7 linked regions of the Homo sapiens genome follow. The protein of the gene in region 5 purifies or fractionates together with the protein of the main gene of each other region. This does not show direct contact. Each region holds a gene or a part of one and is shown on either strand. Other genes may lie near its edges.

Region 1 (3,500 bases), on a different chromosome or scaffold from region 5:
GACTGGTCTCAAACTCCTGGCCTCAAGTGATCTGCCCACCGCGGCCTCCCAAAGTGCTGGGATTACAGGTGTGAGCCATGGTGCCCGGCCTTTGATCCTAGTTTTCTCATGGCTTATTCAAAGGCTCCCTTGGCAGAGCTTGCTCTTCCCCTCCGTTCATTGCATAGTGCACAGGTAATATGGAGGGGATTTGCCCCTGTCTCAGTTTTGTGAGGTGGTGTTTGTATTGGAATCTTGGTTCTGCCACTTACTAGCTGGGTGGGGGTAAGTGAATTATCCCATTTCTGCCTCTCCTTCATCATCTGTACTGACCTGCAGTCATAGTACATCTGTACCCATCGGGTTGTTGTGAGGTTGGTTTTTCTATTCTTGTATGACAAACTTAGCAGCTTAAACCGGCATCCATTTATTATCTCATAGTTATGTATGCAGAAGTCCAGGCATTACAAGATTAAAATCAAGGTGTTGGTAGCTTTGCTCTTATCTGGAGACTCTAGGGAAGAAGCTGCTTCCAGGTTTATTTAGGTTGCTGGCAGAATCCAGTTCCTTGGAGTTGTAGAACTAAGGTCTTTGTTTCCTTGCTGGCTGTCAGCTGGGGACTACTCTGTAACTTAAGGTCCACTAACTTAGGACTCTAATTGGATGTGCAAAATGCCGTCATAGCAGTACCTAGATGAGTATTTGATTGAACAAACAGGGGTCGGGAATCTTGGGCTGCTATCTTTAGAATTCTGCCTACCACTGAGGATTAAATGAGGAGATATATAGAGAGCATTTAGAGCGAGTCCTGGTATATAACAAATGCTGTACAAGCATTACCGAGGATTCAGTACTACAAACTTGGCTCTGAAGCTGGCCACTATGGGCTGCAGGAGAACAGTATTTCTTTTTTTCTTTTTTTTTTTTTTGAGATGGAGTCTTGCTCAGCCTTCTAGGCTGGAGTGCAGTGGTGTGACTCAGCTCACTGCAACCACCTCTCCTGGGTTCAAGTGATTCTCGGGTCTCAGCCTCCTGAGTAGCTGGGATTATAGGCACCCACCATCATGCCCGGCTAATTTTTGTATTTTGGTAGAGACGGGTTTTCACCATGTTAGCCAGGCTGGTCTTGAACTCCTGACCTCAGGTGATCCTCCTGCCTCAGCCTCCCAAAGTACTAGGATTACAGGTGGGAGCCACCATGCCCGGCTGAGAACAGCATTTCTATAAAAGATGGGAATTGCTGGCCAGGCGTGTTGGCTCACACCTGTAATCCCAGCACTTTGGGAGGCTGAGGCGGATAGTTCGCTTGAGTCTGGGAGTTCAAGAGCAGTCTAAGCAACATGATGAAACCCCCATCTTTACAAAAAGTACAAAAATTAGCTGGGCTTGTTGATGTTTGCCTGTAGTTCCCGCTAGTTGGGAGGCTGACGCAGGAGGATCACTTGAGCTCAGGAGTTTGAGGTTGCAATGAGCTATGATCGCACCACTGTACTGCAGCCTGAGTGAGCAAGCAAGAGCCTGTCTCTAATCAATAAGTAAGACATGAGAATTGGCAATGTAATGTGTGTTGCGAATTGGTAATGTAATGTGTGATATTCTCCTGGGCATTGTGAAACTATGTAATATTTTGTTAGGGCCAGGTGCAGTGGCTCACACCTGTAACCCCAACACTTAGGAGGCCAAGGCAGGAGGATCAGTGGAGGCCAGGATCCTGGGCATCACAGCCTGACAAACTAGCCTGGGCAACATAGCGAGACCCTGTCTCAAAAAAGAAGAAAATTAGCCAGGCATAGTGGCACGTGCCTGTACTCAGGAGACTGACGTGGGAGGATTGCTTGAACCCAGGAGTTTGAGGTTGCAGTGAGCTATGATCGTGCTGCTGCATGCCAGCCTGGGCAACAGAACAAGACCCTGTCTCTAAAAAAATAATATAAAAAGATTCTGCTGTGTTACAGATGTTGAGATTTTGTCTTTGTTTTTCCACAGTGGTTTGCTAAGAAGGCCATTTTCAACTCTCCACTGGAGGCTGCTATGGCGTTCCCTCACCTGCAGCAGCCCAGCTTTCTACTGGTAAATATCAACTGCTTGCATGAGTGTCAGTGTGGCCATAGTTCTGTAGATGTGGGACTTGAGTGTTCTTCCCATTGACTTGAAGAACTCTGTAGTGGTTGTTTTTTAGGGGCATGTGATGGAAACAATGGCAGACTCCTTAACTTGACTGTGCCTCCTTATTACTACAGGACCTTGGGGTTACTCAACTTCTGGGCTCTGGGTTTTCTCACACAAGTTCATTCAAATTCTATTTTCTCTACTTCCCAAGGGTGTGAGGAGGAGGAAGAGCAAGTGAGAAGGATGTATATCAGAATGTTCATGACTTGTAAATTCTTAAATAGATATGAAGTATTCTAATAATCAGTCATAACTGTCATCAGTGAAAAATGGAGACACTGTTGTGCGGGGGCCTGCTAGGTTGCACTTTAAGTATTAAACATGATGCTGAGAACTGGGTGCAGTGGCTCATGCCTGGAGTTCCAGCTACTGAGGAGACTGAGGCAGGAGGATTACTTGAGCCCAAGAGTTTGAGACCAGCCTGGGCAACATAGTAAAGACTCAAAAAGGAAAAAAAAATGATACTGAGAAGTGAGAAGTTAGATATGAGGCAAGTATTGGTGATGAAAGTTCCTAATTTTAGTTCTTAGGAGGTGTTTTTGTAAACATTTATGTGGAAGGACATTCTTCCTCAGTGCACCCCACTAGAGTCAACAGGTCTGGCCCATGGCCAGATAGCTCAGGTCTCCATCTCTGTCTCAATCACTGTGAAATCCACCCTTGTTTGGAGGTAGACAAGGCCTTAGATATCCTTTGGCAAAGCTCTCTAGGTTGAAATTCTAGCCGTTTCTCCTGATCTTAATCCATTCGCACAGATGCCCTTTTTCTCCTTGTAGTCAGGGTGCTTTCCTCACATCCCACGACTAGGTAGATTTCATTAGTCCTTGTCCTGAGTCTTTTCTGGCCTCTCCATTGCCTTCATGATTAGTGTCTACTTGGCTGAAGCCATCTATAATTTTTGTCTGCCCTGTGTTTTAAGATCATTGGTTTAGTGGTTCAGTGTCTACCGAATAAAGGACAGCTCATTTAAGAGAGCTTCTGCCATAGCCGTGATGTTGTTGGGCGTTCTTACTGATGATCACAATGGTGTAATCACGGTGGTCCATCAGGCTGGAAATTTCCAGTTGATGCGTACAAACTCAGTTATACTCTGTGGTTTGTGAGGGGTGCCCTTACACAGTCAAGATCCTCTTCTGGCTGTGGGGCTGACTCTGGGACCAACCCCTACTTATGGATTGGTGGAAGTCAATCCTGTTCTGATCATGTGCAGCACTCTGAGGGGGTACTGGGAAACAAGGCTGATAGTTCCTGGTCCAGAGAGCATAGAACTACGGCCTCTCCTAGTAGTACTCTTTGGGCCACTGACACACATGAGGGGCTGGGGAACCAGGCCAGAGGTTATGGGTCTGACT
Region 2 (3,500 bases), on a different chromosome or scaffold from region 5:
AGGTGTCCCTACCCCTCGAGCCCGGGGGGCACCAACAGTGCCAGGATACAGGGCACCTCCTCCTCCAGCCCATGAAGCTTATGAAGAATATGTAAGTACTCTTAAGAAATAAGTTGTAAGGATGAGTTAAATTGATTAGTTAACAAGCTACGTCTCAAACTGTTCATATACCGTGAATATAGCAGGTAATGTTTGTTGCAGAAACGAATGTCATTTACAACAGAATTTAAGCAGTGCATTTAAATGAGAGCATTTTGAGAAAAGGTTTCATTTTACAGGTGTCATCACTGTTAGTGCTAGTTAAAGAGCTTGTATTTTAAGAACCAAACTTATCCTTAGGAAGTTTGATCAGATTTCAAATGAGAAATAATTATAAACAAAAGGTGAATTGCCATGTATTCAGAGATTTCTGGAACTTGACAAAGATTAGCATAAAACTCAGAAATATTTAACAAATATAATATGATTATATTATAAACTTTGGGAGTATTGTAAGACCGTGTGGCTGGTCTTTCATTTATATATCCTGACTCTTTCTTTCACCATATTAAAGATGTGGATTGGCATAAAAAATTCAAAAAAATATACAATGAATAGACAAAATGCAGTGTTTCCAAGCATCCCCCTCCCTTCCTATCTACTGTATCTTTTGGTCATCTTATGTATCTAAACATCTTTTAACCTTTAGTTCTGATTGTCAGTATTCCACTAATTACATTGTGGTCCTTGTGTCCATTTCTCCGACTAGATTGTGAAATATGTAAAAAGGGAAAATTTACTAATAGTGTAACAATAGGAAGTCTTCTGTAAATGTTTTTTTTTTTATTATTATACTTTAAGTTTTAGGGTACATGTGCACAACGTGCAGGTTTGTTACATATGTTTACATATGCCATGTTGGTGTGCTGCACCCATTAACTCATCATTTACATTAGGTATATCTCCTAATGCTATCCCTCCCCGCTCCCCTCACCCCACAACAGGCCCCAGTGTGTGATGTTCCCCTTCCTGTGTCCATGTGTTCCCATTGTTCAATTCCCACCTATGAGTGAGAACATGCGGTGTTTGGTTTTTTGTCTTTGCGATAGTTTGCTGAGAATGATGGTTTCCAGCTTCATCCATGTCCCTACAAAGGACATGAACTCATCATTTTTTATGGCTGCATAGTATTCCATGGTGTATATGTGCCACGTTTTCTTAATCCAGTCTATCATTGTTGGACATTTGGGTTGGTTCCAAGTCTTTGCTATTGTGAATAGTGTCGCAATAAACATACGTGTGCATGTGTCTTTATAGCAGCATACTTTATAACCCTTTGGGTATATACCCAGTAATGGGATGGCTGGGTCAAATGGTATTTCTAGTTCTAGATCCCTGAGGAATGGCCACACCAACTTCCACAATGGTTGAACTAGTTTACAGTCGCACCAACAGTGTAAAAGTGTTCCTACTTCTCCACATCCTCTCCAGCACCTGTTGTTTCCTGACTTTTTAATGATTGCCATTCTAACTGGTGTGAGATGGTATCTCATTGTGGTTTTGATTTGCGTTTCCTTGATGGCCAATGATGATGAGCATTTTTTCATGTGTCTTTTGGCTGCATAAATGTCTTCTTTTGAGAAGTGTCTGTTCATATCCTTTGCCCACTTGTTGATGGGGTTGTTTTTTTCTTGTAAATTTGTTGGAGTTCATTGTAGATTCTGGATATTAGCCCTTAGTCAGATGAGTAGGTTGTGAAAATTTTCTCCCATTCTGTCAGTTGCCTGTTCACTCTGATGGTAGTTTCTTTTGCTGTGCAGAAGCTCTTTAGTTTAATTAGGTCCCATTTGTCAATTTTGGCTTTTGTTGCCATTGCTTTTGGTGTTTTAGACATGAAGTCCTTGCCCATGCCTATGTCCTGAATGGTAATGCCTAGGTTTTCTTCTAGGGTTTTTATGGTATTAGGTCTAACATTTAAGTCTTTAATCCATCTCGAATTAATTTTTGTATAAGGTGTAAGGAAGGGATCCAGTTTCAGCTTTCTACATATGGCTAGCGAGTTTTCCCAGCACCATTTATTAAATAGGGAATCCTTTCCCCATTGCTTGTTTTTCTCAGGTTTGTCAAAGATCAGATAGTTGTAGATATGTGGCATTATTTCTTAGGACTCTGTTCTGTTCCATTGGTCTGTATCTCTGTTTTGGTACCAGTACCATGCTGTTTTGGTTACTGTAGCCTTGTAGTATAGTTTGAAGTCAGGTAGCATGATGCATCCAGCTTTGTTCTTTTGGCTTAGGATTGACTTGGCAATGCAGGCTCTTTTTTGGTTCCATATGAACTTTAAAGTAGTTTTTTCCAATTCTGTGAATAAAGTCATTGGTAGCTTGATGGGGATGGCATTGAATCTATAAATTACCTTGGACAGTATGGCCATTTTCATGATATTGAGTCTTCCTACCCATGAGCATGGAATGTTCTTCCATTTGTTTGTATCCTCTTTTATTTCATTGAGCAGTGGTTTGTAGTTCTCCTTGAAGAGGTCCTTCACATCCCTTGTAAGTTGGATTCCTAGGTATTTTATTCTCTTTGAAGCAATTGTGAATGGGAGTTCACTCATGATTTGGCTCTCTGTTTGTCTGTTATTGGTGTATACGAATGCTTGTGATTTTTGCACATTGATTTTGTATCTTGAGACTTTGCTGAAGTTGCTTATTAGCTTAAGGAGATTTTGGACTGAGACAATGGGGTTTTCTAGATATACAATCATGTCATCTGCAAACAGGGACAATTTGACTTCCTTTTTTCATGATTGAATACCCTTTATTTCCTTCTCCTTCCTGACTGCCCTGGCCAGAACTTCCAACACTATGTTGAATAGGAGTGGTGAGAGAGGGCATCCCTGTCTTGTGCCAGTTTTCAAAGGGAATACTTCCAGTTTTTGCCCATTCAGTATGATATTGGCTGTGGTTTTGTCATAGACAGGTCTTATTATTTTGAGATATATCCCATCAATACCTAATTTATTGAGAGTTTTTAGCGTAAAGTGTTGTTGAATTTTGTCACAGGCCTTTTCTGCAACTATTGAGATAATCATGTGGTTTTTGTCGTTGGTTCTGTTTATATGCTGGGTTATGTTTATTGATTTGCTTATGTTGAACCAGTCTTGCATCCCAAAAACAGTCCAGGACCAGACAGATTCACAGCCGAATTTTACCAGAGGTACAAGGAGGAGCTGGTACCATTCCTTCTGAAACTATTCCAGTCAGTAGAAAAAGAGGGAATCCTTCCTAACTCATTTTATGAGGCCAGCATCATCCTGATACCAAAGCCTGGCAGAGACACAACAAAAAAAGAGAATTTTAGACCAATATCCCTGATGAACATCGATGCAAAAATCCTCAGTAAAATACTGGCAAATGGAATCCAGCAGCACATCAAAAAGCTTATCCACCATGGTCTTCTGTAAATATTAAATTTAACTGATGCAAGCCAGATCATTGTACTATGAAAATGATTTATTT
Region 3 (3,500 bases), about 31 Mb from region 5:
TCTCTTTATTAGATTATTTAAGTTTAAAAATAATTAAAAAGAAAATGTCATCTCAGTTTCCATGTGACATGAAAAGTCATCTACTCTATCCATTTATCTGTTTAAAATAACAAGGGTTTCAATGTTCCTGTACCACTTAAGAAGAAACAGTTCTGCGTTTGGTTCCTGGCTTCGTTTTGCTAAGCATTTCTCTCTTTTTTTTTTGAATCCTTGATTTAAGGTTCACATGGAACAGTGATTTTCTTTTTTTTTTTTTGTTCCTGAGATGGAGTCTTGCTCCGTCGCCCACGCTGGAGTGCAGTAGCACAATCTCGGCTCACTGAGATGGAGTTTTTATTTGAGATAGAGTTTCGCTCTTGTTGCCCAGGCTGGAATGCAGTGGTGTGATCTTGGCTCACTGCAACCTCCACCTCCTGGGTTCAAGCAATTCTCCTGCCTCAGCCTCCCGAGCAGCGGGGAATACAGGCATGCGCCACCATGCCGGACGAATTTTGTATTTTTAGTAGAGACTGGGTTTCTCCATGTTGGTCAGGCTGGTCTCGAACTCCCAACCTCAGGTGATCCGCCTGCCTTGGCCTCCCAAAGTGGTGGGATTACAGGCGTGAGCCACTGCCCCCAGCCCGTTTCTTTTTCTTTTTGAGACAGAGTCTTGCTCTGTCGCCCAGGCTGGAGTGCAGTGGTGCAACCTTGGCTCACTACAAAGTCCACCTCCCCAGTTTAAGTGATTCTCCTGCCTCAGCCTCCCGAGTAGCTGAGATTACAGGCACCTGCCACCATGCCTGGCTAATTTTTGTAATTTTAGTAGAGATGGGTTTCACCATATTGACCAGGCTGGTCTTGAACTCCCGGCCTCAAGCGATCCGCCAGCTCAGCCTTCCAAAGTGCTGGAATTACATGTGTGAGCCACGGCATCTGGCCCCTTTTACTAAGCATTTCTTTGAACACGACAATCACTGCCCAGACTGGGCGCAGTGGCTCACGCTTGTAATACCAGCACTTTGGGAGGCCAAGGCGGGCAGATCACAAGATCAGGAGTTTAAGACCAGCCTTGCCAACACGGTGAATCCCGACCTCTACTAAAAATACAAAAATTAGCCAGGCGTGGTGTCAGGCGCCTGTAATCCCAGCTACTCGGGAGGCTGAGGCAGGAGAACCGCTTGAACCTAGGAGGCAGAGGTTATAGTGAGCCGAGATTATGCTATTGCACTCCAGCCTGGGCGACAGAGCAAGACTCCATCTCAGAAACAAACAAACAAAAAGAAAATCACTGTCCCATGTGAACCTTAAGGTCAAGGATTCCCCAGCATCACATGATCACTGGTGATTTCAGTTTCTAGTCAGAAGCCACTTAACTCCTGGCAGGGAGAGGCAGGCACATGGTGTGCTCACAATGACATCCTTTGGGCTCAACATTTTTGCAATCCTTTTCTATTGTGGGACAAAATCTTGATGGTAGGATCATCTCTCTACCTGTCTCCTAGCTGTGTCAAACTCCAGGGGTGGTCTGGATTTGGATAAGGTGAACACAGGACAGTGTCTGAGATGCCAGACACCAGGCTAGGGGGCAGGGATGCCCCTCAGGCCTGCAGGAGAGTAACAGAGCCCGCTGCTGAGCAGTTATGGACCACACAGACCCACCAGCAAGGCTGGGATTCCAGAGGAATAGAGACACAGGAGTCAAACACCAATCCTCTAAAGCAAGAACAGAAACCTAACCACCAAAGCAACGTCCCAGCCATCCTAGAAGACAGGTAGCTCGTGTGCTGGGAGCACGAGTGATGGTCTTTTCTGCACTCCCAATTGTTTACTGTTTTGCCTCCCACTGGTTTGGCCAGAGGAGTCAGGCCACCAGGCCCCCAGCATTGTGGAGCGAGGACAGGTGAGCTCGGCAGCGCCTCCACCGCACGAGTCCACCTCCTCCTGTGGGGTCGTGTGCCCGCGCCTCACCTGTCGGCTGCACGGTCCCGCGTCCTGTCTCTTCTCCTTTGCTTTTCCCTTCTCTTCTTCACATCCTCGTCCTCGTCCTCCTTCTCTCCTGTAACAGACAAGTCCCTTCGAGACGCTCTGAGTGGCCTGCAAAGGAGCTGAGCTCCAGGGCCTGGTCGGGGGGCTGCAGCTTGGCCACCGCACCCTGTGCCCTGCCACTGCCTGCACCACGCGGCAGGGTCCAGGATGCCCCAAGGCACTGTCAGAGACTCCTGGTGGACACGGGCCTGGAGTGAGAGCCCGGAGTAGTCACCAAACTCCCCACATGGCCTGAGGCGGCCAGGATGGGCTAGGGACACAGCCTGCCCACCCCATGTGCACCACAGCCCCCTGCTCCCTCTGTCCTCCCCATTCTGCTTGTCCAATCTCATGCCCTGCGATGGGGTCTTCTCCCAATATCACAGGAGAAGCCAATTCTCCCCGGATGAAGAGGCGGCAGCTGAAGGCCTCAGGAAGTGAAGCAGCTGCTCCGCCGCCCTCTATCCCACCTCTAGGTGGACTGTGACGAGCGTCCTGGCGGCCCCGTCTGAACTAGGGCCTCAGCAGGTCTGACAGTCCTTGCTGGCCCGACCTCTATCTTCCACTCACAAAAACCGTCAATCTAGGGCTTTCCCAGGGCTGCGTGGGAAGCAATCCTAGAAAAAAATTTGGGAAGAGACCAATTGGTCCTCCCGTCCGTCCCCCGGGGCCAGCAGAGGAGCTCCTCGGAGAGCCACGCGGCCATCATCCCAGCATGAGGCCAGGGACGGACGCTGAAAAAAGGTTGGAGAAGCATCTGAACTGTAACCCCTACCCCTGATGCCAGTCCCGAGACTGTCCCACGAAGATGGCGACCGGCGTGCGCTGCTCAGAAGCCTCTCAAAAGGGCGTGTGGGATTTTTGGCAAGAGGTCACTGCCTGAAACTATGACTGCTGTTTAATAGCAAAGTCATCCCGGGTAGGTAGCAGGACCTGCGCGCAACAGACATGTCACCTTTGCTTTAGCATTGTGCCGCTAAGCGCTCGGGGCGCCCCGTGCTATGGACAGGACTGCTGCGGGTCGCGGGGGGGAGGACCGCAGAGGGCTGGCAAAGCCTGAACAGGAGGAACATCTAAGCCAAGGGCCTTCAGAATGGATGGGAGCAGGGCCACTGAGGAGCCAGCCTATGATCCTTGGGGTAACCAGCTACGGAAAGACCCACAGGACAGGTAAAGAAACGAGTGGCTTCAGGGTGAGCTCCAGGCCGCGGCACCTCAGGCCGCTCTGCCATGAGGGATTTAAGCCTGCTCTGCTGTTGCTGCAGACCCTCTGGTCTCCTGCATTGGACATGAAGAGACCTGCTGAAGGGCGCCCGCCTCTCAAAGACCCAGTGGGCCTGGGTGCTCCCGACCCCGCAGGTGTCTGCTGTCACACACTCGCAGGCACGAAGCAATGTGCAGTGCAGCTGCCAGTATCCCCACCACAGAGGCCCACAGCACAGCCCAGGGCAGGCGACTGAAGGAACTGGACAAAAGGAAGCCCCAGAGAAAACACT
Region 4 (2,590 bases), on a different chromosome or scaffold from region 5:
TGGTAGTGCCCACCTGTAGTCTGAGCTACTTGGGAGACTGAGCCCAGAGGTTCAAGGCTGCAGTGAGCTATGATTGCACAACCGTATTCCAGCCTGGGCAATAGAGTGAGATCCTGTCTCTACAAAAACAAAACCAAACCAAGCCAGAAAAAGAGATACTTCACAGATTACAGAAGATGTAAGATTCTGTTTGCCTTTTTTTGAGACAGAGCTTCACTCTTGTTGCCTAGGCTGGAGTGCAATGGTGCAATCTTGGCTCACCGCAACCTCCGCCTCCCAGGTTCAAGTGATTCTCCTGTCTCAGCCTCCTGAGTAGCTGATATTACAGGCGCATGTCACCACGCCCGGCTAATTTTTGTATTTTTAGTAGAGACAGGGTTTCATCATATTGGTGAGGCTGGTCTCGAACTCCTGACCTTAGGTGATCCACCCGCCTCGGCCTCACAAGGTGCTGGGATTACAGGAGTAAGCCAGCGTGGCCAGTCTCTGTTTGCCTTTTTAATGTCATCTACTTCATTTTGTAAGTAGGGTATCAAGGAAATAATTATCAAGGTATAGTTTGGGAAAAGGTGAGCAAATCCTTAACACAGCTGGCCCAAGGTTTTATTTGGTAGGTCTAAATCTTGACCTTATGGCTATGAAATTTCAAGTTTGTGCTTGAATACATGATTAAAAGAATGAAAATGAAATGACCGATAGTACGTACCATTTTAGTTTTTATTAATAAAATAGAAACTTAGACTCGGACAACTGCTTTATTCTTGCATCTAATCTGACCATATATTGGAGTAGCAATTCTTTATAAAAGGACTTCGGTGAGAACTGTCAATATATCAGTTCCATCAAAAACTCTAGGTTGGAATATCTTAAAAACAGCAAATTAAATATGAGAAAGCACAGAAATCTCTCCCTCAAACAAGAAGGGCTTCCTTTAATAGACTTTAATATAGCTCATTTACAATCGTATGAAAATCCATCAAGATCAATCATGTTGCACAATCCCTAAAGGATAAAACTGAGGGAAGTCATGGATAATTTTCACAGCTTCATTGTAAAGTCCAAGATCTGAAAGAAACATTTAAGCAAACATTTAATCTACAATGGAAAGTTGTAACATCAATTATTATCTAAGATATTTTTACCTATTTCCTTTTTCTCACCCTTTTGGAAGTGAGTTTCTAAAAATGGAGATATGGATTATGGATTCTTGTATTTAACTGTGGCACCAAAAAAAAGACATGGGAGTACCATCCATTTTGATGTTCATTATACAGGCAGTTTCTGCCTGGTAGTGTTTTGGGTGTTATGCATTATTCAATTCCTTCAATTCAGATATTACAACAAAAAAACTAATACTATTTTTGTTATATTTAAAAAAATTATCTTTCAACAAACATTAATTAATCTTTACTGAGTTTCTTACATATATAAGCACTACTTAAAAGCAGGCCAAAACAAAATGTACCCCCATTTGCCTTTACGATCACAAAATTCTATAGAAATTGAAAATGTGGCAGTACTAAAACTCTAGACCAATATATATCAAACTAAAAATAAAACTGTTTTCCTGTATGTTTATGTTATGTAATTGTATGTAATACATACAATTTTGTATGTAATACAAAATGTATGTTAAAACATAGTTATATAAAACTGTATGTTATGTAATTACATACAGTTATATAAAACTGTATGTTATGTAATTACATACAGTTATATAAAACTGTATGTTATGTAATTACATACAGTTATATAAAACTGTATGTTATGTAATTACATACAGTTATATAAAACTGTATGTTATGTAATTACATAAAACCAGTCAATACTAGAATGCTTTATTTACCAAAAGGATGGCTATCTTCTTTAAACTGGACATAAGATGTACACAAGATGGTGGCCTTGGCGGTTACTCTTCCAACCACTTCCACAATTCCAGAGATTTCTTCATCAAGCTAAGACACAGAACAAGACATCGATTTGGTGATATCACATTTTCAGTTGACAATTATTTTGGAAAACTGTTATACAGGTTACTAATCTATCACTTCAAGTAACAAAGTAATTTTAAGAATTACCAGTGTAAAAGTTAAAATGTAACTTGTTAACAAATGTTTGAGTACTTAACTGTCAGCATGTTAAAATTCCTGCTACCTTTAGCAGTAGCTTCAAGTCCAAAGCTACAATTCAAGTTAAAGACAAAATCACTATTGAAAACGTCCAGCATTTCTATAAGCAGTAATATCCTATGAGAGGAATCTTCTATAATCTGTATTTCACAATGTGTTCTGTATACATTAACCAAACAGCATATGGATTTGTCTTCACAAAATACCAAAAAAAGTTTTAAGTATGTTAAACATAAAATGCAAACATAAATAAGTAAAAACTGGAAATATATGAACAAAAATAGAAAATAAAATAAAATCGAAAACTCTTGAGGGGCTGGTCGAGGCAGGAGGATTGCTTGAGACCGAGAGTTCAAGACCAGCCTGAGGAACATAGGGAGATGCCATCTTTACAAAAAACAAAACAAAACAAAACAAAACAAAACAAAACAAAAATTAGCCAGGCATGGTTAAGCATGCCT
Region 5 (3,486 bases):
ACCCTCCTTGGCTCCCAAAGTTCTGGGATTACTTTGGGAGGCTGAGGCAGGAGGATTACTCGAGGCCAGGAGTTTGAAAACAGCCTGGGCAACATGGTGAATCCCCGTCTCTACTAAAAATACAAAAAAATTAGCTGGGTGTGCGGTGCATGCCTATAATCCCAGCTACTTGGGAGGCTGAGGCAGGAGGATCACTTGAGCCCCAGAGTTTGAGGCTACAGTGAGCTGCGATTGCACCACTGCACTTCAGCCTGAGTGACAGAGTGAGACCCTGTAGAAAAAAAAAATTATTTAGGAGTCCAAACAGTTTCTGTTGATGTGGGTTATGTCTATCTACGTTTACAGTATTTACAATTAAAACTGAGAAATATTACAAACATGTATTCATTTAAAAATAGCAATCATTTGTTAGTGTAAAAGATTTTTATTAAAAAAACCAAATTTCAAAAAATTTAGTCAAAAGAGCGACACTGTTTTTTTCCATTTTTGCAAATCAAGTCTGGCCCAGTGGAAGACAGCTGGATTCTCCTGGTTGCTTCTTCATTCTCTCTGTTGGAATATCAACACCCCCTGGAAAACTCCACTGTACACTTCATGAGAAAGAGAGTGAAAAGGGCTAATAATAACTTAGGATTGCGGGTGTGGTGGCTCATGCCTGTAATCTCAGCACTTTGGGAGGCCGAGGCGGGCAGATCACGAGGTCAGGAGTTCAAGACCAGCCCGGCCAACATGGAGAAACCCTGTCTCTACTAAAAATACAAAAAAAAAAAAAAAAAAGCTGGCGTGGTGGCACACACCTGTAATCCCAGCTGCTCTGGAGGCTGATGCAGGAGAATTGGTTGAGCCCAGGAGGCGGAGGTTGCATTGAGGTGAGATCACGCCACTGCACTCCAGCCTGGGCGACAGAGCAAGACTCTGCCTCGAAAAAAAAAATAGCATTATTTTGAAAATAGTTTTGACTTCGTGGACATCCTCAAAGGGTTTCAGAGACTGCCCTGGGAGTCCCGAACCCTGGAGAATCACTTAAAGGATGATGTTGAGTGTATGGGAGCATGGTGGGTGGGAAAGCAGGGGGCAGAAAGGGCGTGTCCAGGGAGTGAGGAGAGACCTTGAGAGACTGCTTTCTACAGATAGAGGTAATGATGGAAGGGATTTGTAGAGAAGGCAAGATGGACAGACAGACGGACACTCAGTGGGTCCTGGGATCCTTTGCTGACCAGCAGAGTGGAGCCCCACTGACCCCTCCTTTCATCTTTCCCCTAGGTCTACTCGCCGGTGACCCCAGTGCCCACCATGGCCCCCCTCAACTCCTACATGACCCTGAATCCTCTAAGCTCTCCCTATCCCCCTGGGGGGCTCCCTGCCTCCCCACTGCCCTCAGGACCCCTGGCACCCCCAGCACCTGCAGCCCCCCTGGGGCCCACTTTCCCAGGCCTGGGTGTCAGCGGTGGCAGCAGCAGCTCCGGGTACGGGGCCCCGGGTCCTGGGCTGGTGCACGGGAAGGAGATGCCGAAGGGGTATCGGCGGCCCCTGGCACACGCCAAGCCACCGTATTCCTATATCTCACTCATCACCATGGCCATCCAGCAGGCGCCGGGCAAGATGCTGACCTTGAGTGAAATCTACCAGTGGATCATGGACCTCTTCCCTTACTACCGGGAGAATCAGCAGCGCTGGCAGAACTCCATTCGCCACTCGCTGTCTTTCAACGACTGCTTCGTCAAGGTGGCGCGTTCCCCAGACAAGCCTGGCAAGGGCTCCTACTGGGCCCTACACCCCAGCTCAGGGAACATGTTTGAGAATGGCTGCTACCTGCGCCGCCAGAAACGCTTCAAGCTGGAGGAGAAGGTGAAAAAAGGGGGCAGCGGGGCTGCCACCACCACCAGGAACGGGACAGGGTCTGCTGCCTCGACCACCACCCCCGCGGCCACAGTCACCTCCCCGCCCCAGCCCCCGCCTCCAGCCCCTGAGCCTGAGGCCCAGGGCGGGGAAGATGTGGGGGCTCTGGACTGTGGCTCACCCGCTTCCTCCACACCCTATTTCACTGGCCTGGAGCTCCCAGGGGAGCTGAAGCTGGACGCGCCCTACAACTTCAACCACCCTTTCTCCATCAACAACCTAATGTCAGAACAGACACCAGCACCTCCCAAACTGGACGTGGGGTTTGGGGGCTACGGGGCTGAAGGTGGGGAGCCTGGAGTCTACTACCAGGGCCTCTATTCCCGCTCTTTGCTTAATGCATCCTAGCAGGGGTTGGGAACATGGTGGTGGGTATGGCTGGAGCTCACACCACGAAGCTCTTGGGGCCTGATCCTTCTGGTGACACTTCACTTGTCCCATTGGTTAACATCTGGGTGGGTCTATTACTTACTGTGATGACTGCTGTCTCAGTGGGCATGGTGTTGATCCACGGGGTACTGTGATAACCACCATGGATACATTTTGGTGGCCCACTGGGTACTGTGAGGACTGCTACATTGATGGATGTTATTGGCTAATCCACTGCATGGTTTGATGGCCACCATCTCGGTTGGCCCTTTGGGTGTGATGGTGATAGCATTTCAGTGACATCTTCTTTGGCCCCCCCCATTAGGTGCTGTGCCCACTTCTTTTTTGGTGTACTTGGCACAGTAGGTGCCAAGTTGGCCACCATTCTGTGTAACACCTTTTTTGGCCCATTGGGTGCTTTGATGGACATCATACTGGGTAGGTGACAACGTCAGTGGGCCACCATGTGCCATGATGGCTGCTGCAGCCCCGTGTTGGCCATGTCGTCACCATTCTCTCTGGCATGGGTTGGGTAGGGGATGGAGGTGAGAATACTCCTTGGTTTTCTCTGAAGCCCACCCTTTCCCCCAACTCTGGTCCAGGAGAAACCAGAAAAGGCTGGTTAGGGTGTGGGGAATTTCTACTGAAGTCTGATTCTTTCCCGGGAAGCGGGGTACTGGCTGTGTTTAATCATTAAAGGTACCGTGTCCGCCTCTTACTGAATGTCTCTTTTCCTTGGCCAGTGGGCCCTGTGGGGCTTGAACACCTGAATTTCTGCTCCTCTGTCCCTTCTGCTTCCTGCCCCTAAGAGCTGGCTGCCTCTGGGGGAGGAGTTGGGGGAGGCATCGACCTGACCTTTGGCTCTTTGCTGTCCCTGACCCCAAGGACAGTTTGCTCACAGATAGCAGCCCCCGCAGCAGTGGGGCCAGAGCAGCAGGGGGAGGTGGCTCTGCAGTGACCAAGGCCATCTCCCCACCCCCACTTCTCAGACATACACACAGACCTCTACCTCTGAGGCTCTGCAAGCCTAATGGCCGAATAATCTTTGGCTAAGCTGGGGAGGAGGAAAAAGGACAGATGAGGTGTCAATTCAATGACTGGAGATCGTGCACATGTTGGAGTTTATCTGCGTGTGTGTGTGTGTGTGTGTGTGTGTGTGTGTGTCCTCTGTGTGTCATAGGATAGCACTATGCCTATTGGGGTCCTCATGGTCTACCG
Region 6 (4,074 bases), on a different chromosome or scaffold from region 5:
TCTACTGATTGCAGCCATTTAAATGTCTGCATTGAGAGCTCAAGAAATGAAGGCATCCACGATCCATGAGGACACATGAGTTTCAAATTAAAGATTATGAAAACACAAACCTACAAAGTGTTAAAAACAAACAATTAAAACAGCAAGTGAAACACCCAAAGTTGGAAAGATTGTCTTCATTTCAATATTGATACAATCCCTATTTAATAAGGTGGCCATTTTTAAAGCCATCACAGTACCTTCAGCCTCCTGTTTTTAGACTTTCTCGGTGACCCCAGAGCACTGCCTGCCTTTCCACTTGCCTCAGGGCAACTGCTGAGAGCTAATGATTCAATTACCTAATTACAGGATATGAACGACTGAAAACCATTCTGTCCTAATGGATTATGAAGATAATCAGTGCTGGGAATGAACAAATAAAGTAATTTTTTAAAAAAACCCTTAAATCAGAATGGCACTTCTGAAGTTCATTGGGGGGCGGATTATTAAAAAATACTTCAAGTCCCTTTATACTGGCCTGGAGGGAGAAACAAAACATTAAAAACAGATATTTTAAAAACCCTAGGCAAGAACAAAACCAATAATAAACAAGTAAAAATCAGAACTACAAAGTCAGGTTGGGCAGCAGAAGGTTTTAGAGCCAGATAAGGGGAAGAGAGAAAAACAATTCACAAAATTTGCCACCATTGGCAGGGGGTGGGGGGAATTAAATACATATTCAAGTCTTTCCAAAGGCCTTTTGGAGACAACCGAATGGCTTCTAAGCTGTCTGTGGCCAACCTGGACCACATCAGGAGACAGTATCTTTGAGCTTGGAGACAATTTTCTTGTCCTTCACTCTTCGGTTCTGAAACCAAATGGTCACTTGTCTCTCAGATAGGTTCGTAGCAGCCGAGATACGCCGCCGCTTGTCCTTGTTAATGAATTTGTTAATGGCATACTCGTTCTCCAGTTCTTTAAGCTGCAGTTTGGTGTAAGGCACTCTCTTCTTCCTCCCTCTTCGGTAGACGCACATGTCCGGCTGATTTAGAGCCACATCCCCTGATACAAACAAAAGCACAAGAAAAATTAGGCTGGGATATTCGGAGCACCTAGCTGAGGATTGTGTGTGTGTGTGTGTGTGTGTGTGTGTGTGCGTTTGCAGGGGTGCAGGAAATTTTTAAAAAATGCCATGCTGTTTGGTCTTTATTATGTACATAGACATAACACTTACCTGTTATTAAAGAAGGATTATTTGCACTTAACAACAATGGTTAATTTGATTGATTATCATAGTTTCTCAAACCGGCATCTTAACAAGCTTGCAATTTTATGGTGTGGTTATTGGGCACGTTCATGAGGACAGTTTCTGCAAATGTCGGTTGTATAAAAACAAACTTACATACATAGACACATACCAACTCAGGTCTTTTGCTCAAATTTTGATTTCCCGCGTTCCTATGTTAGGAGTTCGTGAGCTTGATCTAACAAGCTTTAGTAGTCATCTTGGGGCAGTGATGTCTTTGAAAATGGGGGGACCCAACTCTGTCAGGTTTCTTAGGAAAAAGTTCTCTTTAGGAGAAAAGGGAGAGGCCCAAGGAAAGGGCACGCAGAGACTCTCAACTTTAGGAGAAAAACGTGTCTGCGCTGCACACAGGAAAGAAAGGGCAGTGACGGAGGCAGTTGAAATCAGAGGAGGAATTTACAGATTTCACACGAACTGGACAAATTTCCACTGGGTTAACCCTGGTCACGTGTGGAGCACAGGCACAACTCCCACTCCCAAGTAGGGGCGCATACTCTTAGTCCTTTCTTTTCTCCTTCTCTCTCCCCCTCCCTCGTGTCGGTCCCTTTTCTCCATCGCCCCTACCTGGAAAGGAAGATTTCCAAAAGTGGGACCCCTGTGGCTGGTCCTTGGTGCAGTACACCTGGCTGTTCCACCCGTTAGCCAGCGTCCAGGACTGGTACCCCTCCATGGAGATGTAGGCCTCGTGCCGAGGCTCCCCGGAGCCGAAAGTGGACACCATGTCGATATAGCCGGGCACGTGCTGGTAAGGGCTCGTATAGCCCTGGTAGAAGGATACCTCCTTGGCTCGCGCTGGCACCTCGTTGGCCGGTACGCTGCTGCTCGCCAGGCCTGACACGTCCATGTACTTCTCCACGGGAAAGCCTCCCAGCGAGGCGTGCGGCGATGACTTGAGCGCATTCTGCTGTAAGCCCACGCCGTGCGACATACGGCAGCTGTAGTAGCCGTTGCCGAAGTGGTAGCCGTAGCCCAGCGCTGGAGCGCTCGGGGGCGCTGCAGCGGCCGCTGCAGGCGTGGGTGCTGGGCACTCTTTGGCTGGGGGAGCCTCCGGGCGCGCCGCTACAACGGCAGAAGAGGACGACGACGAGGAAGAGCCCGTGCGCTCAGAGGTCCCGGGGTACGCAAAGCCGGAGGCTGCCGCCGCCGCCGCCGCAGCCGCCGCTGCCGCCGCCGCCGCCCGCCCCGAATGCGTCCCGGCGAACACAGGCGCGGAGAGAAAGCCGCGGCACTGGCCTGACGCCGCCGCCGCCGCCACCGATGAGGAGGAGGAAGAGGCCGGGGCGCCACCGGCGCCCCCGCCGTCTGCCCGCAGCCCGTCCATGTCCCAGCTCCCGGCGCGGCTCATGGCCCGGCCTGGCCCGGCCCCGGCCCTGGCCCTGGCCCCGCGCAGGACACCATGGCGCGGCGCGCCTCCTCCCTCCTCTCCTTTCTCTCTGGTTCGCTCGCTCCCGCCCTCTTCCTCTAGCCCTCTCTCCCTCTGTGAGCCTCCCGCCTCCGGCCCGCCTGCCCTCCAACAGGTTAGCTCATCGCGGGACGTTTATAAAAACGAAGTTCAGGTTGGGAGGGGGCCTGGGCCGGTCGGGGGGCCGCCTCCCGCCCCGAGGGCCCCCGCCGGGGGCGTGCCATTGGCTGCGCGCGGCCACGTGGGGGTAGGAACGCGGGGGAGCCTGGCTCCCGGCCCAGGCCTGGCTGGACCCACCCACTCCGGCCCCCACCCCTCTCCTGCCCCTTGCAGGGTCCACCTCCCATTCCCGCCCTCCCCCCCGACCCAGGCGTACGCGCTGCAGCCACCCCCACGAGTTGATTGCGCGACGGCCCATCCCAGGCCCTGTCTGCGACTGAGGCGGGCGCCAAGGCCTGCGCCTTGTCTCGGCAACCGCTGTTTTTGCCACCTCTCCTCGGCTCCCCGAGTTGCACAGCAAAATGAAGACGAAGGACAGAGATGATCAGAATGATGTGAAAACAGGCCCATTTTTTTATCCTGTTGCTGAATCCCTCAGTTAGTCGACTTCTAGACCCCAAATCCGAGTGAGCTAATTTGCCCTACCTTGTGCACTGGTACCCGGCAAAGGCATTTCACACAGGTAAGAGGCATTGGAGCAGACCCTTCCTATACACACACGCTGTCCGTTCGGAAAATGCCCATGAAGCGCCCTTGGGGCTGGCGGCAGAGACTTAAACAGATGAAAGACAGGCATCGGCGCAGTGAGCCTGACAATCTGTCCCAGAAAGAAAAGTCCATGGATGCCTACTCAACGCTCTTCGCCTCTACTCTTGGGCCAGCCGGGAGTGCTTCCGACCTGGGCCTCTCAGCTCCCGCGGGTCCTTCTTCGACCCGCAGAAAGACCCTGAGAACGGCGCCGGGGGAGAAAGCCACTCAGCCTCCCACCGTGAAACTTCTGTGTCTCTCCAGCAGCCGACCGGCCTCGCATTTTGCAGTCACCACCCACTCCCGCCCGTTTCTCACACCAAATTAATTGAAAACTTCACTTTCCCAGGGACCTTTGTTTCGCTTCCTTTTCCAAGCTGTCAACTGCAGAGAACTGAGAGGGGCAAATTAAGAGGGCGCTTGTTCCAAGCAAATTCGGATTTTGTGATAGGAGCAGCCCAGAGAAACGGTCTGACTTCAAGGGGTTAGGTGGGCTCAGGGCAGTGCTGGTGGGGCTAGGTCCAGCTCTGGAACCAAGCTGCCAGGGTGTTAGGGATTACAGCCCTGTCCCTCATCATCCCTTTCTGTTGCTCCTCAGCCTCAGAGCTCCAGCCCACCATCCCTCAATCTCAGCAACTAA
Region 7 (3,150 bases), on a different chromosome or scaffold from region 5:
CTAGAGTGCAGTGGTGCAATCTCAGCTCACTGCAACCTCTGCCTCCCAGGTTCAAGCGATTTTCCTGCCTCAGCCTCCCAAGTAGCTGGGACTACAGGCATGCACCACCACACCCGGCTAATTTTGGTAATTTTAGTAGGGATGGGGTTTCACCATGTTGGCCAGGCTGGTCTCGAACTCCTAGCCTCAGGTGATCCGCCTGCCTCGGCCTCCCAAAGTGCTGGGATTGAAGGCGTGAGCCACCATGCCTGGCCCATAATAACTTCATAACCACAGTAAAGTATTTTAGAGCTCTCTTTGAAGGAAGCACATCTTGATTCATGAAATATCTGAAACTTCAGAGAGCCTAAGTTTTTCTTAACCATGTGACATTAGTGTGAGTGGAAACCAAGAGTATAAACCTAAGCCCTATGTACTAAAGAAATTACATAAGTTAACCTGTTACTGCCACATCATACATTCGGATTTAAATACGAAAAACACCACACAGAAAACAAACATTTTTTTAAAAAAGATTTAAGATCATAAATAGGTCATTGTTGTCACAACACATTTCAGAATCTTAAAAAAACAAACATTTTGGCTTTCTAAGAAAAAGACTTTTAAAAAAAATCAATTCCCTCATCACTGAAAGGACTTGTACATTTTTAAACTTCCAGTCTCCTAAGGCACAGTATTTAATCAGAATGCCAATATTACCACCCTGCTGTAGCAGGAATAAGAGGCAAGGTATTAGCACTAAGAAAAACAGCAAAATTCCTGAACAAAATCATCTGTCATTTTAAAAAAGGGATAAAAAAACAGGCTAAGTGGTGAGCATTTTAGTTAAGAAGGCCCAGTGTTGTTATGCAGGACTTTCCATTAAAAAAAAAAAAAAAATCGAAATATTTTAACTCAAGTACGTTTAATTCACCACAGAGGAGCTAAAAGAAAAGAGAGGGGGTTGGTAAAATACAGTATACTTTCTTTAAAAAAGACTTGGGAGGAAAAAAATCAACTTAGAAGATCATATGAAAGGGCAATCACATGGAACCCAGTTAGTGTCCTAGTTTATTACTAGTCTTCAGATCCAGAAAACAGAGTAAGACACTAGGTAAACAGAACACCTAGGCACATCTGTAAGGCATTTGTTTCCTATCACACAGCCCATTCTAGCTTAACACCCACCAACTGAGATGTAGTGAAATACTAAAACTGGATGCTCAAATTATGTTTTTATCCAACCAAAAAGTTCTTTAAATATAAAATTCCTCACTTTAAACTCTGCCTTGTCTTCTGTGATACCAACAGAACTTTAAGGTTTTATGCAATATGATGATTTCGTGTTACTTTTAAAAGAACCCACAAAGTAAGCAATTGTCCACAGATGAAACATGGGATGAGGTTCATGACTGAATCAATCATGGAGTGTTAGTCAATTGTAAACTCCTGAAAGTTAAGACTAGGAAATGTGTATATCAGACACATAAGAGTACAACAATAGGAGAAAAAGGGAAGCCTGTTTGTCATTCCAATTCTGACAACGTACAAGGTCTTCGAAATTCTTGTCCACGTTCATGGAGCCATTTATTGGATACTGTGAGAGAAAAGTAATATATTAATTTTCCCCCTTAATCTAATCAGTATTTAATTAGTTTCTAAAAGCTAGGTCTATAACAAAGTTTCATCATGGGATAAAAGTTCAACACCAAAACCGGATAAAGGCAGATGCTACTTAAAAACTTGGCTAAATGCTGAAAACACAGATTTTATATACCTATATACATATGTGTACACACTTGTGTGCGTGTATGTACATACATGTATGTATACACATGTATATTTGCCAGTCTATGTGCATTTCTTACAGTTTCCAATGTTCAATGTGAGGCTTGAAATGAGACACAAATGGACCTAAGATACAGGTACAGGTAAGAGTAGAATATTGCTTTATGTATTGTTTTCAAAGTACAGCCTCCAAAATACAAAGACAATAATGAACACAAACTTTGCACTCTAAAGGAACAACTCTCTTATCAACCATTGCTATTGTATGCTCATCAAGTTTCCAAAATACCTTTAAAAAATGTATACCATGTAAAAATGTATCCCAAAAGCAGTTAATTTTCTATTTTTTTTTTGTCTCTGGTACCATAGAACCCAGTCAAAATATCTAAAGCAGGAACCTTAATTCTTAACTCTTTTTCCTTCTTCAACCCTTGTATCTACACTTTATTCATCAAACCCTGACAATTTTCCTTACATCTCTCTCAAATCTATTTGCTCTCCAACCCTTTCACTGATGCTTTAATCCAGGCCATTATCATCTCCCACTTAGACAACAGAAAACAGCTTTCTAAACTCTCTCTCACCAACTAGCCTCTCCTCATTCTAGTCCAGTGGTTCTTAAACACTATAATCATAAGGGGAGATTTTAAAATCCTGATCAGGCCTCACTCCTTAACCTTGTAATGTCCTGTATGTAACCACTCAACATGTGGCTAGTAACACAGATTGAAATGGATACATGGGGCTAATTAATAGATATTAAAACTAATTTTACCTGTTTCTTTTTACTTTTTAAAAATGTGGTCCTGCACTTGCATGTCCCTGACTGAGAGTGAGTGCCTCTTTAAATTTTGCACATTAGGTGCTACTCGAGCCTCACATTAGAACCTGGTATCTAACATGTTTGGAAAACTGCTGTTCTATCTTCAGGACCAAATTTAAAGAAAAAGCTTTGAAGAAGACTCCCCAAACTTAGGCAGTCACCATCTTCTGTTTACATTTTTGTATTAATATGTACTACATTATAATCCATTAGTATGTCTCAATCAGATTATTAACCCTTTGAGGGGAAGATATTGTCTTATTCAATTTTGAGTCAGTCATTGTTTCTTGGAATAAGTAAAAATAGTTAAAAATAAAATCTGTCATCAAAATTCTGATTTCAAATTTGTATTATGATTAGGCACTTGTTTGGCTGAATCCTGTACAATGTTAAAATCATATTAAGCAAACATGGGGGCTTTTGTTTTTAAGACACAGATAATAGTTCCAAAATAAGAAACAAAAATTACATTATCTTCGCAGAATATATGAAATATTTACCCCATTTGTTGCCAACTAGCACTGGACAGGCTGCATGCCGTGTACTATAATCTCCTTCTC

The links.
Region 1: the proteins of FOXA3 (region 5) and SMPD4 purify together in Homo sapiens (affinity purification with mass spectrometry; one large-scale study listed by BioGRID and IntAct). This does not show direct contact.
Region 2: the proteins of FOXA3 (region 5) and KHDRBS2 purify together in Homo sapiens (affinity purification with mass spectrometry; 2 studies listed by BioGRID and IntAct, with this or other methods). This does not show direct contact.
Region 3: the proteins of FOXA3 (region 5) and AKAP8 purify together in Homo sapiens (affinity purification with mass spectrometry; one large-scale study listed by BioGRID and IntAct). This does not show direct contact.
Region 4: the proteins of FOXA3 (region 5) and RPA3 purify together in Homo sapiens (affinity purification with mass spectrometry; one large-scale study listed by BioGRID and IntAct). This does not show direct contact.
Region 6: the proteins of FOXA3 (region 5) and HOXD13 purify together in Homo sapiens (affinity purification with mass spectrometry; one large-scale study listed by BioGRID and IntAct). This does not show direct contact.
Region 7: the proteins of FOXA3 (region 5) and P4HA1 purify together in Homo sapiens (affinity purification with mass spectrometry; one large-scale study listed by BioGRID and IntAct). This does not show direct contact.

The regions. Positions count from the first base shown.
Region 1 is NC_000002.12:130,175,103-130,178,602, reverse strand, and holds part of SMPD4 (sphingomyelin phosphodiesterase 4), read left to right. Parts: intron 1-1,965; coding exon of another isoform or gene 1,966-2,010; coding exon 2,011-2,049; intron 2,050-3,500. UniProt on the Homo sapiens protein: Catalyzes the hydrolysis of membrane sphingomyelin to form phosphorylcholine and ceramide. It has a relevant role in the homeostasis of membrane sphingolipids, thereby influencing membrane integrity, and endoplasmic reticulum organization and function.
Region 2 is NC_000006.12:61,891,226-61,894,725, reverse strand, and holds part of KHDRBS2 (KH domain-containing, RNA-binding, signal transduction-associated protein 2), read left to right. Parts: coding exon 1-91; intron 92-3,500. UniProt on the Homo sapiens protein: RNA-binding protein that plays a role in the regulation of alternative splicing and influences mRNA splice site selection and exon inclusion. Binds both poly(A) and poly(U) homopolymers. Phosphorylation by PTK6 inhibits its RNA-binding ability.
Region 3 is NC_000019.10:15,366,288-15,369,787, forward strand, and holds part of AKAP8 (A-kinase anchor protein 8), read right to left. Parts: intron 2,036-3,500; coding exon 1,948-2,035; intron 1-1,947. UniProt on the Homo sapiens protein: Anchoring protein that mediates the subcellular compartmentation of cAMP-dependent protein kinase (PKA type II).
Region 4 is NC_000007.14:7,636,018-7,638,607, forward strand, and holds the end of RPA3 (replication protein A 14 kDa subunit), read right to left. Parts: intron 1,956-2,590; coding exon 1,847-1,955; intron 1,066-1,846; coding exon 983-1,065; 3' UTR 501-982; downstream 1-500. UniProt on the Homo sapiens protein: As part of the heterotrimeric replication protein A complex (RPA/RP-A), binds and stabilizes single-stranded DNA intermediates that form during DNA replication or upon DNA stress.
Region 5 is NC_000019.10:45,870,812-45,874,297, forward strand, and holds the end of FOXA3 (hepatocyte nuclear factor 3-gamma), read left to right. Parts: intron 1-1,263; coding exon 1,264-2,247; 3' UTR 2,248-2,986; downstream 2,987-3,486. UniProt on the Homo sapiens protein: Transcription factor that is thought to act as a 'pioneer' factor opening the compacted chromatin for other proteins through interactions with nucleosomal core histones and thereby replacing linker histones at target enhancer and/or promoter sites.
Region 6 is NC_000002.12:176,091,447-176,095,520, reverse strand, and holds the start of HOXD13 (homeobox protein Hox-D13), read right to left. Parts: upstream 2,801-4,074; 5' UTR 2,631-2,800; coding exon 1,850-2,630; intron 1,042-1,849; coding exon 791-1,041; 3' UTR 1-790. UniProt on the Homo sapiens protein: Sequence-specific transcription factor that binds gene promoters and activates their transcription. Part of a developmental regulatory system that provides cells with specific positional identities on the anterior-posterior axis.
Region 7 is NC_000010.11:73,006,717-73,009,866, forward strand, and holds the end of P4HA1 (prolyl 4-hydroxylase subunit alpha-1 isoform 2 precursor), read right to left. Parts: coding exon 3,091-3,150; intron 1,577-3,090; coding exon 1,506-1,576; 3' UTR 501-1,505; downstream 1-500. UniProt on the Homo sapiens protein: Catalyzes the post-translational formation of 4-hydroxyproline in -Xaa-Pro-Gly- sequences in collagens and other proteins.